2 separate regions of the Homo sapiens genome follow, and region 1 is linked to region 2. Evidence: fine-mapped QTL for protein levels in blood plasma. Region 2 holds a variant in brackets. A gene starts in the other region. All regions are shown on one strand. Distances are between the middles of the regions.

Region 1 (8,148 bases), 30 Mb after region 2:
CCTTAAACCTTGATTCCATACAACACATATTTCTGTGAGCTCGAGGTTGGGGCTAAAGTTACAGATTAACAGCATCTCAGGGCAAAGCAATTGTTCAGGGTATGGGTCAAAATGAAGTTTTTTATGTCTTCCTTTTCTACATAGACACAGTAACAGTCTGATCGCTTTTTCTTTTCCCTACATCCCAGACCCCAGGACTACCAAACTCCAGGGCCCCCAGACTGCAGGACCCCCAGATCCCAAGACTCCCAGACCTCTGGATCCCCAGACTTCAGAACCACCAGACCCCTGGACCCCCAGACCCCAAGACTCTCAGACATCTGGATCCCCAGACCCCTATACCCCCCCACCAAACCCCCATATCCCAAGACCCCTAGATCCCAGGACCCCCAAACCTCCGGATCCTCAGACTTTAGGACCCCCAGACCTCAGGACCCTTAGATTCCAGGACTCTCAGACCCCTGGATCCCCAGACCTCAGAGTCCCCAAATCTCAGGACCCCACAGACCTCAGACTCCAAGGCCCCCGGCTCCCCCAGACCCACCTCCAAAACTCACTATCCCAGACCCCAGGCCTGCCTGTCCCCCACCACCTGCAGCCTCGGGTCTGGCACTTCCTCATTTCTTTATTTCCTTTTTTTCTAAGAGGCCTCAGAACTGGGCGTGGAGGACGTGCAGCTGCATGAGGCTCACTGCTGGCTGGGCTCCTCCATCCCTCTGCTCCTTATAAAAGAGGCCCCAAGAGCTCCCCTGCTCCCTCTGCTGTCTACTGAGGACACAGTGAGAAGACGGTCATCTGCAAACTAGGAAGTGAATCTGCTGGTGCCTTGATCTTGGACTTCCCAGCTTCCGGAACTGTTGTTCATAAGCTACCCCAGTTTACGGCATATTTGTTATAGCAGCCTGAACAAACATTTGGAGACATCTGCTCTCTACCCAGGGCTGCTCCCACCACAGGGCCTTTGCACATGCTGTTCCCACTCCTGGATGCTGTTCCCCACATCCCTTCCTCCTTACTCCCTAAGGGGTTCCTTGATCATCCCATTGAAAAGTTGCTTCTGCGGCCAGGCTCAGTGGCTCACGCCTGTAATCCCAACACTCTGGGAGGCTGAGGAGGGTGGATCACCTGAGGTCAGGAATTCGGGACCAGCCTGGCCAACATGGTGAAACCCCGTCTCTACTAAAAATACAAAAAGTTAACTGGGCATGGTCCCATGCGCCTGTAATCCCAGCTACTTGGGAGGCTGAGGCAGGAGAATCGCTTGAACCCGGGAGGTGGAGGTTGCAGTGAGCCGAGATCGCATCACTGCACTCCAGCCTGGGCAACAAGAGCAAAACTCCGTTTCAAATAAATAAATAAATAAATAAATAAATAAATAAATAAATAAAAGTTTCCCATCTCATTTCCTGCCCTTATTTTTCTTTGCAGCATTCCCACCACCTGCACTTGATATATTTTCCCGATGGATTCTGCCTGTTGTCTGTTTCCCCAACTACAGTGAGAGGTGGGGGGAGGGGGGGCTGGGATTTTTGTCTGTTTTATTCACTGCTGTGTCTGTGGTTCATAGTACCTGGTATACAACAGGAACTTCATAAAGGCTTACAGAGGAAATGAATGAGTCTTTCCTTATAGGTTCATAGAGATTTATAATTTCATTTTCAGAACTTTGTGGCATGCTAGGATGGATGAACTGAACTGTTACTAATGTAACCAATCCTTTAAGTTATTTCCTTTTTTTTTTTTTCCTTCTTCTTGAGGCAGAGGATCACTCTGCACTCTGTCACCCCAGGCTGGAGTGCAGTGGCACGATTTCAGCTCACTTCAACCTCTGCCTTCCAGACTCAAGCGATCCTCCTGCCTTAGGTTCCCGAGTAGCTGGAACTGTAAGGATGTGCCACCACTCCCAGCTAATTTTTGTGTGTGTGTATATCTATCTATATATATATATAAAAATTTTTTTTTTTGGTAGACATGGGGTTTCACCATATTGCCCAGGCTAGTCTTGAACTCCTGGGCTCAAGCGATCCTCCTATCTTGACCTCCCAAAGTGCTGGGATTACAGGCATGACTCACTGTGCCCGGCCCATTTTATTTTTTTTCATGTAACAAACAATGCTGCAATGAATCACTTTGAGCCTGGAGCATCTTTTTGCCTTCTCTCTCTCTCTCTTTTTTTTTTTTATATGAAGTCTCGCTCTGTCACCAGGCTGGAGTGCTGTGGCGCGATCTAGGCTTACTGCAACCTCCAACTCCCTGGTTCAAGTGATTTTCCTGCCTCAGCCTCCCGAGTAGCTGGGATTACAGGTACATGCCACCACGCCCAGCTAATTTTTTGTATTTTTGGTAGAGACAGGGTTTCACAGCGTTGGCCAGGATTGTCTCAGTCTCCTGACCTTGTGATCCGCCCACCTCAGCCTCCCAAAGTGCTGGGATTACAGGTGTGAGCCACCACGCCTGACTTTGCCTTCTCAAAAAAACAAACCTGCAACATACACACAACATAAAATTGAACATTTTAGCCAATTTATTTATTTATTATTATTATTTTGAGATGGAGTTTTGCTCTTGTTGCCCAGGCTGGAGTGCAGTGCCGTGATCTCGGCTCAACTGCAAACTCTACCTCCCAGGCTCAAGTGATTCTCCTGCCTCAGCCTCCCAAGTAGCTGGGATTACAGGCATGCGCCACCACACCCGGCTAATTTTGTGTATTTAGTAGAGATGGAGTTTCTCCACGTTGGTCAGGCTAGTCTCAAACTCTGGACCTCAGGTGATCCGCCCACCTCAGCCTCCCAAAGTGCTGGGATTACAGGCATGAGCCACCGCGGCCGGCCCAGCCATTTATTTTAAATTATTTTTTAGAGATAGGGTCTTGCTCTGCTGCATAGGCTGGAGTGGAGTGGCACAATCACGGCTCACTGCAGTCACAACCTTCTGGGCTCAAGGGATCCTCCCACCTCAGCCTCTGAAGTAGCTGGGACTACAGGCTGAAGCCACCATGCCCAGCTAATTTTTAAATTATTATTATTATTATTATTATTATTATTATTGAGATGGAGTCTCGCTCTAACGCCCAAACTGGAGTGCAGTGGCATGATCTCAGCTCACTGCAACCTCTGCCTCCTGGGTTCAAGCGATTCTCCTGCCTCAGCCTCCCTAGTAGCTGGGATTACAGGCACGTGCCACCATGCCCAGCTAATTTTTGTATTTTTAGTGGAGACGGGGTTTCACCATGTTGGCCAGGCTGGTCTGGTACTCCTGACCTCGTGATCCGCCCACCTTGGTCCCCCAAAGTGCTGGGATTACAGGCATGAGCCACCACGTCCAGGCTGAGCCACATTTTTTTATTCGTTAGTCAGTTCACACTGTAAACATGCAAATATTCAGGCAGGGATTCCCAGAAGTGGACTTGCTGTGTCAGCAGGCACATGAGTTTATCATTCCGGTGGCCTGTGCCAGGGTGCCCTCCACCAGTGCTACACCATGGACGCACCCCACAGCCTGGCTGGCACAGAATGTCATTGCATTGTTGGATTTTTGCCAATTTGATTGGTGAAGACAAACAGTTTGTGATTTGCAGTTTTCTTATTAAGTGTGAACTTTTTTTTTTTTTTGAGACAGGTCTCACTCTGTTGCCCAGGCTGGAATGCAGTGGAGTGATCTTGGCTCACTGCAGCCTCCACCTCCTGGGTTCAAACAATTCTCCTGCCTCAGCCTCCTGAGTAGCTGGGACTACAGGCACATACCACCACACCTGGCTAATTTTTGTATTTTTTAAAGTAGAGACGGGGTTTCACCATGATGGCCAGGCTGGTCTCGAACTCCTGGGCTCAAGCGATCTGCTCACTTCAGCCTCCCAAAGTGTTGGGATTACAGGTGTAAGCCACTGCACCTGGCAAGAATGAGCATCTCTGGACATGTTGAAAAGCAGTTTCCCGCTTTTTCTTCAAGGTCTCCGTTCAAAGCCTTTGACCATTTCTTGGAGTTTGGCGATGTGAAGGACAGAGGCCGAAAAGAGGGGAAAACGTGGGGGAGTGGACTCCCAGCCTCCCAGATCCCGGAGAAGCCTCTGTGCATTTGACAGCTGTGGACATGGTGTCACACGCAGTTAAGGTGGCACAGTGAGTCGGGCTGGCATAGGTTGTACCTGGTCCACCTGACACCAGGTTCAGGTGAGGCCTTCTCCCAGCCCACCCCTCCTCAGTATCATTTTTGTCACTACTACCCCTCCAGTCTGCCTCAGGCCCCCATCTGCTTCTGGGACCTCAGCCTCCTCCCCAAGTTGCCCACCCCAGACACCAGGCTCACTCCAGAGGGACTTCTTGAGCCAGTGCCCCTCTGCCCACGCACCTGCCTTGGCTCCACATGGACCTCTTCCCCCACCACCAATTCCTTCTATCCTCTCCACTCCTAACCATGCTATCCCAGCCAGCTACATTTTCCCAAGCTGCTGGGAGCCCTCCTCACTGTCCCCTCCAGCATAGAGGTGCCACTGTGCAAGAACTCAGTGGGAGAGGCTTGGAGGAGCTTGGAGAGCCAATGATAGGTTTGGGGAATCTTAGTGAACTCCTACTCATGCGTTGAAGCCCCAACTGTAATGCCTCCTCCTCCAGGAAGCCTTCCAGGACCCTGTCTTTCCCTCTGGACCTTCCTTAACTGCATGGGACTAGGAGTGTCTATGTCCAGCTCTGTCCTCTCTTAAGATAGCTCCTTGAGGACCTGGTCAGGGCTGAGGCCTCTTGGGGGCCCAGCGTGGGTGATGCTTGTTGAATGAATAAATGACTGCATGAGCTGGGAACCAGCCAAGCTGAGATCAAGAAGCGAGTTGATGAGGTGGCAGTCGGTTGGGGTGCTAATAGAGGACATGAAGTCACTGGGTTCTAGCAAGAGGGAAGCGGGACTCTGGTCCACCCCTCCCTCTTGCCCTCCATCCACCTCTGGTGAGAACCTTGAGGCCCTGCAAGGGGGCGGATCTCTGTCTTCATTCTTCCCCTCTGCACTCCACCCAGACACCAGTTCCTCTTCCCCCTGAGTCGCTGGGTGCAGAGCCAGAGGAACGCCAGCGACCCCAGCAGCGCTGCGGACGGTGCTGGCCGTGGCCGCTGCGGCCCCCGTGTCCAGGTGGGCCAGGACGCAGCCTCTGGGCGCCGTCGCTTTTCCAGCATCGCAGAGGCAAAAGCGTGGCAGTGGGACCCAAAAGGTAGGACTGAGGCTCTAGAACTTGCACCTGTGCAGGGACTGCAAACCAGACCTGGGAGGACCCTTTCAGCAGCCCCCACTCCACCCTATCCCAGGACTTCCCAGCGACCCGCCGTTCTGGGAGATACCGGGAGCGTGATCAGGGGGCGGGGCCGTTTCCAAGGCAACCGCTTATTTGCATAGGGTCCCGTCCTGGCCAACGAGGGCGCCCCAAATGTTCAGGACATAGAAGAAGGGGTTAACTGGCCCGGATCTCCTCCTCGCCTTCCAAGCCCGCTAAGCACTGGGGTTATCTACCCATTCCCCAGAAGGGGAGACTGAGGCAGCCCACCAGCCAAAGGAGGCGACCAGACTGGGGCTGCGTTTTACCATTTCAGAAGCGGCTTGAGCTGGTCTGAGCTATAATAATAAACACTGGCGGTGGAGGCGAGGGCGACCACAGGGCTGAGGTCAGGGCTAGGATTCCGGTGTCTCTACGTAGGTTGCTTGAATGGGGGGCACCCTGGCATGGACGCTGCTGTTGCCGCTGCTGCTGCGGGAGTCAGACAGCCTAGAACCGTCGTGCACCGTGTCCTCCGCGGATGTGGACTGGAACGCGGAGTTCAGTGCCACGTGCCTGAATTTCAGTGGCCTCAGCCTGAGCCTGCCTCACAACCAGTCTCTGCGGGCCAGCAACGTGATTCTCCTTGACCTGTCTGGGAACGGCCTGCGAGAGCTTCCAGTGACCTTCTTTGCCCACCTGCAGAAGCTTGAGGTCCTGAACGTGCTACGCAACCCCTTGTCTCGTGTGGATGGGGCGCTGGCCGCCCGCTGTGACCTTGACCTGCAGGCCGACTGCAACTGTGCCCTGGAGTCCTGGCACGACATCCGCCGAGACAACTGCTCTGGCCAGAAGCCTCTGCTCTGCTGGGACACAACCAGCTCCCAGCACAACCTCTCTGCCTTCCTGGAGGTCAGCTGCGCCCCTGGCCTGGCCTCTGCAACTATCGGGGCAGTGGTGGTCAGCGGGTGCCTGCTTCTTGGACTTGCCATCGCTGGCCCTGTGCTGGCCTGGAGACTCTGGCGATGCCGAGTGGCCAGAAGCCGGGAGCTGAACAAACCCTGGGCTGCTCAGGATGGGCCCAAGCCCGGTTTAGGCTTGCAGCCACGGTACGGCAGCCGGAGCGCCCCCAAGCCCCAAGTGGCCGTGCCATCCTGCCCCTCCACTCCCGACTATGAGAACATGTTTGTGGGCCAGCCAGCAGCCGAGCACCAGTGGGATGAACAAGGGTAAGTAAGCCACTGAGACACCTGCCAAAGTGGTGAATAATAAGGCTCCACACCCAGATGGCCGAGGTTCAAATCCCAGCTCTGCCGCTTGAAGGCTGTGGGATCTTAGGTGAGTAGCTTTACTTCTCTGAGCCTCAGTCTCCTCACCTATAAAATGGGGAGAGGACTGGACATGGTGGCTCACACCTGTAATCCTAGCACTTTGGGAGGCCAAGGCAGGCGGATCACTTGAAGTCAGGAGTTTGAGACCAGCCTGGCCAACACGGTGAAACCCAGTCTGTACTAAAAATACAAAAATTAGCCAGGTGTGGTGGCGGGCGCCTGTGGTTCCAGCTACTGAGGAGGCTGAGGCAAGAGAATCTCTTGAACCTGGGAGTCAGAGGTTGCAGTGAGCCAAGTTCATGCCATTGCACTCCAGCCTGGGTGACAGAGTGAGACTCCATCTCAAAAATAAAATCAATAAAATAAAGTAAAATGAGGGAGAATTACAGCCCCCATCATAGTGTGTTGGGGTAAGAATTAAGTGAGTTCCCATATATGGGACAAACTTCCCCCCCTTATGACCTGTAAACCCAGTTTCTGGCGGCCAAGGATGGGGAGACAGGAGGCAACTGCTTGAGCGGAGTTGGGGCTCCGCGGTGGCGGTCAGCAGCATAGGCCCAGGTCCCATGTGACCCAAGGCTGTCTCTGAACCTCCATTTCTGTCTCCATAGAGTGGGGACAGCCCCCCATTTCCCCATGACACACATGAGATACTAAAGAGGTGCCCTACAAAGTCCCATCACCACTAGATGATTTTTTTTTTTTTTTTTTTGAGATGGAGTCTGGCCCTGTCATCCAGGCTAGAGTGTAGTGACACGATCTCGGCTCACTGCCAGCTCCGCCTCCCGGGTTCATGCCATTCTCCTGCCTCAGCCTCCCGAGTAGCTGGGACTACAGGCGCCCGCCACCACGCCAGGCTAATTTTTTGTATTTTTAGTAGAGACGGGGTTTCACCGTGTTAGCCAGGATGGTCTCGATCTCCTGACCTCGTGATCCGCCCACCTCAGCCTCCTTAAGTGCTGGGATTACAGGTGTGAGCCACCGCGCCCAGCCGACATTTTTTTTTGAGACAGTGTCATTCTGTCGCCCTGGCTGGAGTGCAGTGGCACCATCACAGATCACTGCAGCCTCAAGCTCCTGGCCTCAAGTGATCCTCCTGCCTCAGTCTCCAGAGTAGTTGGGACCACAGGCACATGCCGCCGCACCCAACTAATTTTTGTATTTTTCATAGAGACGGGGGTCTTGCTATATTTCTCAGGCTGGTCTCAAACTCTTGGCCTCAAGTGATCCTCATGTCTTAGCCTCCCAAAGTGCTGGCATTATGGGTGTGAGCCACCGCCACCGGCTTCTGGATGATTTTGCTGGGCTTAGACAAATGAGTTGAACTTTTCTAGGTTGGTGTGGGGTGCGGTGGCTCATGCCTATAATCCCAGCACTTTTCGAGGCCAAGGCGAGGTCAGATCACCTGTGGTCAGGACCTCAAGACCAGCCTGACCAACATGGTGGAACCCTGTTTCTACTAAAAAATACAAAAATTAGGCCGGGCACGGTGGCTCATGCCTGTAATCCCAACACTTTGGGAGGCCAAGGCAGGAGGATCACGAGGTCAGGAGTTCGAGACCAGCCTGGCCAATATGGTGA
Region 2 (9,151 bases):
TTGGTCTCGAACTCCTAACCTCAAGTGATCTGCCCTCCTCATCCTCCCAAAGTGCAGGGATTACAGGTGTCAGCCACTGCATCTGGCCTGGGCACAGTTTTTCAGTGGGAGCCCAGAGGGCACTGATGCCCTCATTTCTCCTTACCAATATCAAGGATGAGAAGAGGGGTCCAAGCAAAGAGACTAACGGTGGGGAAGTGGGCAGCCAGTAGACAGCTGGGCCCAGACCTGTTCTTCCCCCCAACATCCTTCCCCTCTCCTCTTCTCTTTACAATTTAACTTTTTTCTTTTTTTGAGACAGGGTCTCACTCTGTTGCCCAGCCTGGAGTGCAGTGGTATGATCATGGCTCACTGTAGCCTCAGCCTCCTGGGTTCAGGTGATTCTCCTGCTTCAGCCTCATGAGTAGCTGGGACTACAGGTGCTCACCATCACACCCAGCTAATTATTATTATTATTATTTTTTGAGGCAGAGTTTCATTCTTGTTGCCCAGGCTGGAGTGCAATGGCATGATCTCGGCTCACTGCAACCTCTGCTTCCCAGGTTCAAGCGATTCTCCTGCCTCAGCCTCCCGGGTAGCTGGGATTACAGGCATGAGCCACCATGCCCGGCTAATTTTGTATTTTTAGTAGAGACGGGTTTCTCCATGTTGGTCAGGCTGGTCTCGAACTTCCAACCTCAGGTGATTCACCTGCCTTGGCCTCCCAAAGTGCTGGGATTACAGGCGTGAGCCACTGAGCCCAGCCTGCTATTGTTTTTTAATTTTAATTTTTTGTAGAGATGAAGCTTTTGCCATGTTGCCCAAGCTGGTCTTGAACTCCTGGGCTCAGGTGATCCACCCACCTTGGCCTCTCAGCGTTGGGATTACAGGCCTGAGCCACTGCACTTGGCCTACAGTTTAATATTTTAAACCATTTTTTCCTTCATTATAGAAAAGTTCAAACAAACACAGAAATAGGATAGTATGATAAACTCCACTAGCCAGCACCTAGCATCAACAATTAGCAATAGTTAATCAGATTTCCCCTGAAGACCTCCACTGTCCTACTATTGGATGATTTTGAAGTAAATCCTACCTAGACTTATTTGGAAATACTTTATTATGTCTCTAAAACATAAGGATGTATTGTAACAAAATCTTTCAAAGCTAAAACTCCTATCATCTGCAAACCTTTGGGTAAATCCATTAATACATGGCTCAGATGAGCAAACCAGTGCAGTGGTTGCTGAAAACTGTAGGCCAGATGGGGCTGGTGGTCTTGGAGCCACTGGAATGAGGGCACGTGTGTTAAAAATACAGATCCCCAGCCGGTGCCTTGGGTCACGCCTGTAACCCCAGCACTATGGGAGGCTGAGGAGCGAGGATCACTCCAGGCTGGGAGTTTGAGACCAGCCTGGTCAACACAGGGAGAATCCCGTCTCTACAAAAAATATCGGGCTTGGTGGCGCACACCTGTAGTCCCAGCTACTTAGGAGGCCAAGGCGGGAGGATCGCTTGAGCCCGGGAGTTCAAAGCTTCAGTGCGTTATGAGTTTGCCTGTGAATAGCCACTGAACTCCAGACTGGGCTACAGGGCGAGACCCTGTCGAAAAAAAAAAAAAAAGGAAAGAAAAGAAAGAAAGGAAGGAAGGAAGAAAAAGAAAGAAAGAAAAGAAAAGAAAGAAAGAGAAAGAAAGAAAAGAAAGAAAGAACGAAAGAAAGAAAGAAAAAGAAAGAAAGAAAGAAAGAAAGAAAGAAAGAAAGAAAGAAAGAAAGAAAGAAAGAAAGAAAGAGAGAAAAAGAAAGAAAAAGAAAAGACAGACCCCAAAAATCCCCAAATAGATCCCTCGACTGAGCTCTGGGGACCCGTACTGAAGAGGTCTGGGTAGGACCTCCCCGCCTCCTCAGGGGAGTAAGCGGCGTGGGCCGTGCCAGCGGGGGTGACCCCGGGGGCTGTGTATGGGTGGGGGCGCACCCCGAACTGAGCCCACGGGGCGCTGTCCCGCCTGCAGATGTTCGGGCAGCGGCGCAGCGCGCAGGCGTTGGAGCTGGCGCACATGCTGTACTATCGCAGTACGTCCAACAACTCGGAGCTGCTCAGCGCCCTGGCCCTGCGCGCGCAGGACGAGCACACCAAGGAGGCGCTGCTGGCTCACAGCTTCCTGGCCCGGCGGCCAGGGGGCACTCAAGGCTCGCCCGAAGGTAGGACGTGGCCCTGGGACCCTGCCCCCAGGGGCCACACCCCCGCGAGGCCCCGCCCCAGCGAGATGCGTCCCCACCCCCAGTTCCCACGGGTGAACCTGACGGGTTTGCGAAGAGACCCCGGCCCTCAGCAGACAGGACCTCCGAATCCAGACTCCGATCTTGGTGCCTGATGTGACAGCCCTTTCTTAACCTCAGCCTGGTTGGGAGTCTTGGCTCCATGGCACGGCCCCCTCCTGTCATTCTTTCCTCTACCTGAGCTGACACTCTCCCTACAAGAGATCCTGCGCGCTCCCTGTGTGGGCTCCAGGTGGTCCCCTTGCCTACAGGAGCCCCCACCTTCCCTGCCCAAGAGCCCCTGACTGGTCCCCAGACGAAAGCCCCAGAGCTGGGCCTTCTGGCCCTCTCGACCCTCCTGGGCCTTGTTCCGCTCCCCTCCAAGCCTCAAGATCACTCCTAGGCTTCTCCCAAACCCAGGCCCTTCCTGTTCTTTGCCCTACGCCCCTCCTTGCTGCTCCCTCGAATCTTCCCCGATCTCAGTGTGACCTCAGAACACCTGCCTCTCCCCTTGCAGAGACCTCCAGGTGGCTCCGGTCGGAGGTGGAGAACTGGCTCCTAGCCAAGTCAGGCTGTGAGGTGACCTTCAACGGAACTCGGGCCCTGGCGCATCTGCAGGCCCTGACCCCCAGCATGGGATTGTACCCACCCCCGGGTTTCCCCAAACTAGACCCAGTGGCTCCGATCACTTCCGAGCCCCCGCAAGCCACGCCCAGCAGTAACATCTCCTGAGTAGAACCTACCTCCCTGCCCAGTCAGCAGGCTAGGAACTAAGCCCCGCCTCCTTCACGACAGGCTGTCAATTACGGTTATTATACTTTTCACTCCAACTTCCAATAACTGACAGGTGATTATTTTTGCTGCACTGTGTGCTTAAGCAAAGCAGCCAATCAAAGCAGCTAGCAGTTGTTAAGTCTTCCCCGCCCCTTCGATGAACAGCCAATCAAAGCGATTTAGCTCTGCTTCTGTTCCATTTCTTAGTCCCACCCTCACCATAAACATCCAAGTGTGGTTTGGCTGAGGAGCTGAGGGTGTCTGCCAATCACAGCTGCTCAGCTCTGGCTTCTGTAAACCGCCAGGTAGAAGAGTTAAAGCTGCGCCCTCCCGAGACTATATATCATTGTCTTTTTCAGCCCGCTCCGGGCAAACTGCCCATCATGTGCACCAAGGCCGTTAGCCCTGCCTCCTGGCAAACGTCCAGTGACAGCTGCTGGGTTCCATCAACTTTGGGCAGCCGGTTGTCGCTGCAGGGAAGGAACCAATAAGAATTTCTAAAGGAAACCTGATCTTGCTATCAATTGCTGCTGCTTAAATGGCAGGCCAACTGGTCAGCTGCTGATCAGGGTGTCTAGGCTGAAGGAGTTGGAGACCTTGTGCTAGGTAGGTGAACCAGAAACCACCCTCGCCACCAAGACTCGCTCCCAACCTGGCTCCCGGCAACCTCAGGTGCCTTCCTCGCCCAGGTCTTTCACCCTTTCTACAGAAACTACCTCGGTCTGGATCTCCCCACCACCAGCAGCCTGTGCAATATTTATTGGTCTATCAATTTCTCCCGTCTCCTGTCCCAAAGTAATAAATCATGTTTAATAAGTCTGGATGAGGCTACTCTTAACGCACTGCCTTTAGGGTAACCCTGCTCTGTAGGAGTGGTTAAAAAATTATTTTTAAAAATCTAGATGAGTGGGATGGCTGCAGGAGTTGGAGGGAAGGAAAGCATTTGAATCCTGGAAAGAGGGGAGGGACTCTAGCTAGGTCTTGGGGTCCCAGACAGAGAAAGCTGTAGTCCTAAAAAGAGGCTGGGTTCATGGTCGGTGAAACAAAGACAGTCATAGAAGAGGATCTTAGAAGGATCTGATTCCAGAGGAGTCCCAGGGCCTGATGAACAGAGGAGATAGCGTAGCCATGTGCGATTGTGCAGATTTGCAGATTTTTTTTTGTTCTTGAGATGGAGTTTCGCGCTTGTTGCCCAGGCTGGAATGCAATGGCATGATCTTGGCTCACTGCAACCTCCGCCTCCTGGGTTCAAGTGATTCTCCTGCCTCAGCCTCCCGAGTAGCTGGGAGGCGCCTGCCACCGCGCCTGGCTAATTTTTTGTATTTTCAGTAGAGACGGGGTTTCACCATGTTGGCCAGGCTGGTCTCGAACTCCTGACCTCAGGTGATCCACCTGCCTCAGCCTCCCAAAGTACTGGGATTACAGGCGTGAGCCACCGCACCCGGCCTGTGCAGATTGTTAACTGCACAAAGGAACACAGCCACGGGTGGGTGGCTGTAAGACCCAGCCCATACCCCTACATGTATCCTGGTGTGGGGCTGGGTCAGCCAGAAGAAGGGGTGCCTCCTAATTTTTGCTAACGTGTCATATGGGCTAGAGGCAGCCTTTGGGGAGACAGGGGAAGTCTCCCTCTCTAGGACCCCAAATGTTCAGTCCCTAGAGAGGGAGACTGGGCTGGGCGCGGTGGCTCCCGCCTGTAATCCCAGCACTTTGGGAGGCTGAGGTGGGTGGATCACCTGAGGTCAGGAGTTCAAGACCAGCCTGGCCAACATGGTGAAACCCCGTGTCTACTAAAGATACAAAAATTAGCCGGACGTGGTGGTGGGCGCCTGTAATCCCAGCTGCTCAGGAGGCTGAGGCAGGAGAATTGCTTGAACCCGGGAGGCGGAGGTTGCAGTGAGTGAAGATCGCACCACTGCACTACAGCCTAGGTGACAGAGCGAGACTCCGTCTCAAAAAAAAAAAAAAAAAAAAAAAAGAGAGAGAGGGAGACTGGTTTCCTAGAGGGAAAAAGAAAGCTGTCTTCCCAAATGGAAAGTTAGTAGAAAGAAAAAAGAGTCCAGAACTAGCCGGGTGTGGTGGCTCGTGCCTGTAGTCCCAGCTACTCGGGAGGCTGAGGCAGGAGAATCGCTTCAACCCGGGAGGCGGAGGTTGCAGTGAGCTGAGATCGTACCACTGCACTCCAACCTGGACAGAAAGAAAAAAAGAGTCCGACAATCTAGAAACACACACTATGCCCGGGGTTCAGAGAGAGAGAGCAACAGAGTGACAGAAGCTTGAGCAAGGAGACAGGACTGGTCACTGCAGGCTTCCTATCCTAACAGGGTCTGCTGGGACCCAGAATCCAGGTTCTTCCCAGAAGTGTCTGAAGGTCTAGATTCAGGTGCCTCACAGAGGTCTCTTGGGCCTTGAGCGGGGAAGGCCCAGGCTCTTGGGTCTGTGGGAGGGAAAAGGTGCCTGGGGTCCCGGCTCCTGTGTCCTCGGGAGGAAGGGGTTGGGGGCTGGGAGATGGGCATTCTGAGGGCTGAGCAGCTGGCGGTGGGGACCATGTTAGGTTCAGGAGAGGTCAAGCGTGCGCAGCCTGGGTCCCTGGAGGCGGAAGGAAGGAAGATCAAGGCAGAGCCCGCGGTTAAGGTTTTATTTTTTGGAGGACGCGCGGCGAGGGGGGCCGGGAAGGGGCGGGGGCAGCCGAGCGAGGCGGGGCGCTCACTCCCGCTTCCGTAGGTGGATGTAGATGATGCCGCTGACCAGGGCGAGGGGGAAGGCCACCCAGGCCAGGGCGAAGCAGTATCCGAAGCTGCCCCCTCGCGGGTGCTTCTCCAGGA[T/C]CTCCTCGGCGTGAATGGCATAGATCAAGGCGCCAGTAAACACCGCCACGCCTGCGGAAGATGAAAACCACACGTCATGCAGTGCCCCCTCAAGACTACATTTCCCAATATCCCATGGGGGCAAAGAAGCGCCGGAGGGCCCGTGGGCAGCGCCGCTGCCTGCTGGGAGTTGTGGTTCTTTCCCCCCCGCCCAGCGCCGTGCAACTGTAGCGCGGCCTTAGGTAACTGATTTAATCTCTCTAGGTCCAATAATATCTCTCTATCCATCCAAGGAATATTTTTGAGTGTGTTTCTATAAGCCAAACATGCAGTAGTAAATTCATAAACCAAGAGAGAAGCTTTGCAAGAACCTATAATGTTCCCCAAACTGACTGTGATTAAGTTAGCCCTTTGCACCTTAAGTCAAAAAATTAAAAAGTACGCAAAACTTCTTGAAGTATCTGATGCACAATAGGCACGCAAGAAACAGCGGTTGGCTGATATAAATACCATTATTATTATGATTTAGAGCTCTCTACTGAGGTACTAATTAGTTTATCCCCCCACGTCACGGCCGATCCCTGGGACCAAAACTATTTACCTATACCTCCTTCCCCAGCCCCGGCTCCCTGAAACTCTGAGTTCCCTGATGACTCATACGCACAAGCCATAACTATCATTAGCCACTGAAAACTACAAGTCCCAGCAATCCCTGGGGGCAGAGATGTAGCCCACGGAGGCACCTCTTGTGGCTCGTGGGGTGTTGAAAGTTGTTTTTTTCTACGAGAGGCCCATTCTCAGGGCCCCCAGCATCTTGACACACCCCACTCCCTTCTGCTCAATTCTTGGGGGATTAGGGTTGGGGAGGGGCAGTGCTCACTGGTGCAAAGCTGGCAGAGGCCGGTGGCATAGAAGAGACCTCCTCGTCGCATGGTGTAGAGCTGGAACATGAACAGGATGAAGGAGAGACAGCAGAGAATGAGGGAGAGCACCATGAGGACCTGCACCGCCTTCAGCCAGCCTGCAGTAAGGAGGACACAGAGGGGGACATCACCGTGGGTCCAGAGTTCCAGCTTCACCTGCTTGCTCACCATGTGACCCTTCTCTGCCCCATCCCTGCTCCCGTTTAGGCCCATACAAGCCTAGATACTTAGATGTATCACTTATTTTGACCTTGAGCCCTGTTACCTTGCTATATTCCCTTCTCAGTTCTAGTAGTTGCTTTGCCAATTTCCTTTTTCTTTTTTTTCTGAAACCAGGTCTTGCTCTGTTGCCCAAGCTGGAGTGCAGTGGTATAATCATGGCTCACTGCAGCCTCGTCCTTCAGGGCTCAAGAAATTCTCTCACCCCTGCCTCCTGAGTAGCTGGGACCACAGGCACAAGCCACCACAACCTGGGTAATTTTTAAATTTTTGTAGAGACAGGGTTTCCCTATGTTGTCCAGGCTGGTCTTGAACTCCTGGGCTTAAGTGATCCTTCCTCCTCAGCCTCCCAAGGTGCTGGGATTACAGGTGTGAGCCACTGTGTCTGTCTGCTTTGCAGAATTTTAATGGATTTTCTACATAAACAACATGTTTACTGGGAATAGAGACACTTTTTCCTAATTTATTTCCCATGCCCTTTATTTCTTTTTCTTGCCTTCTTGCATTGGCTACTCCAGTAAAAGGTTGAATAGAAGTGGTGAGAGCAGACCACTTCCTTTAATCTTAGTTTTGCATTAAATCTTTCACACAGAACTTTAGATAGATGCAGCTCTATTCCTTTAGAACTCCAATGCACCTGGCCCCACCCCTTTAGAACCTTAAGTGGTTTCAGCCCCATCCCCTTGGAATTTGGATGAAATGGTCCCAGGCATCCATTCAGAGCACCAGCCCCATCTCCTTAGAGCTTTGGAAAAATACTCTTGTCTTCTCAGAATCTTGGGAGATTTTTCTCTATTCTTTTTTTTTTTTTTTTTTTTTGAGACAGAATCTTGCTCTGTTGCCCAGGCTGGAGTGCAGTAGTGCAATCTCAGCTCACTGCAACCTCCACCTCCTGGGTTCAAGCGATTCTTCTGCCTCAGCCTCCCAAGTAGCTGGGACTACAGGCGCACGCCACCATGCCCGGCTAATTTTTTTGTATTTTTAGTAGAGACGGGGTTTCATCATCTTGGCCAGGCTGGTCTCGAACTCCTGGCCTCGTGATCTACCCGCCTTGGCCTCCCCTCTCTATTCTTTAAACCTATAGCATGCTTTTATCTATATGGCCTCTTCAGAACAGGAGGTACTGGCTGGATGTGGTGGCTCACGCCTGTAATCTCAGCACTTTGGGAGGCTGAAGCAGGTGGATTAGCTGAAGTCAGAAGTTCAAGACCAGCCTGGCCAACATGGTGAAACCTGTCTCTACTAAAAATGCAAAATTAGCCAGGCGTGGTGGCACACACCTGCAGTCCCAGCTACTCGGGAGGCTGAGGCAGGAGAATTGCTCGGACCCCGGAGGGAGAGGTTGCAGTGAGCCAAGATTGCGCCACTGCACTCCAGCCTGGGCAACCAGAGGAAAACTCGGTCTCAAAAAACAAAAACAAAAAAAACAAGAGGTAGGTACATCCAGACAGGCGGGACATGCATTAGCCCTAGGCACTCAGCCACTCAGGCCTGGACCCCGCCCACTCCAACTTTGTTGGGGGAGGGTTCCCAATTCTCAGTCCCATGAGGACACGAAGGGTTTACCTTCCCCTTTGAAGACCAGTCCCGCCGCCCTCACCCCTCACCATTCTCGCTGACATTACTGCAGGCCCATGTTTTGGTGTCGTTGTTCCACGTGCAGTCGTACCAGAGATTCAGGGACTCTTTCCCAGGGAGAGTCCACCAGGACTGGGATGGACAGAGAACGAAACAAGGGGCAGGGTTAGGAAAGGAGAGGGGATAGGGTCAGGCAGACTGTGGGAAGGGCTGGGAAAAGGGCAGGGTATCTGGGATGGGGCAGAACTGGGGAGAGTTAGGATTTAATATGAGAGGGGGTAGGGTCAGGACAGGGAGGAGGCATCGGAGGTAGAGCTAAAAGGGTTAACCTGGTGGTTCATGCCTGTAATCCCAGCACTGTGGGAGGCCGAGGCAGGTGGATCACTTGAGGCCAGGGGTTCGAGACCAGCCTGGGCAACATGGTGAAACCCCGTCTCTACCAAAATAAAAAAATTAGCCGGGCTTGGTGGCAGGTGCCTCTAATCCCAGCTACTTGGGGGGCTGAGACAGGAGAATCGCTTGAACCCGGGAGGCCGAGGTTGCAGTGAGCCGAGATCGCACCACTGCACTCCAGCCTGGGGGACAGAGTGAGACCCTTGTCTCAAAATAAATGAAA

Alleles and levels. Positions count from the first base shown, and alleles are read on the strand shown. Strength reflects both the effect of a copy and how common the allele is.
For the plasma level of the protein whose gene starts at base 5,028 in region 1, allele C in region 2 goes with a lower level than allele T (moderate association).

What was found. PIP is the posterior inclusion probability: the model's chance that the variant is causal. The UK Biobank Pharma Proteomics Project read protein levels with antibody pairs (Olink). The fine-mapping took linkage between variants from a reference panel, not from the people measured, so its PIPs are less certain.
Region 1: it holds the start of LRRC25, and the variant in region 2 is fine-mapped to the plasma level of the LRRC25 protein (UK Biobank, PIP above 0.99).

Annotation. Positions count from the first base shown.
Region 1 is chr19:18,394,502-18,402,649 of GRCh38, reverse strand. It overlaps LRRC25 (leucine rich repeat containing 25), which reads left to right and starts at 5,028. Exons shown (of 2, transcript NM_145256.3): 1 at 5,028-6,465. The coding sequence starts at 5,687.
Region 2 is chr19:48,327,037-48,336,187 of GRCh38, reverse strand. It overlaps EMP3 (epithelial membrane protein 3 (MAM blood group)), which reads right to left. Exons shown (of 5, transcript NM_001425.3): 3 at 8,565-8,667; 4 at 6,696-6,836; 5 at 5,635-5,887. The coding sequence ends at 5,718. It overlaps TMEM143 (transmembrane protein 143), which reads left to right. Exons shown (of 8, transcript NM_018273.4): 7 at 1,991-2,180; 8 at 2,755-3,832. The coding sequence ends at 2,969. Among named protein-coding and RNA genes, the nearest start is that of EMP3, 6.1 kb to the right of the region's middle. RefSeq lists a silencer at 1,795-2,314 and enhancers at 2,655-2,704, 2,715-2,804, 2,195-2,930, 6,637-6,786. The variant T/C (reference allele first, on the strand shown) is at 5,837.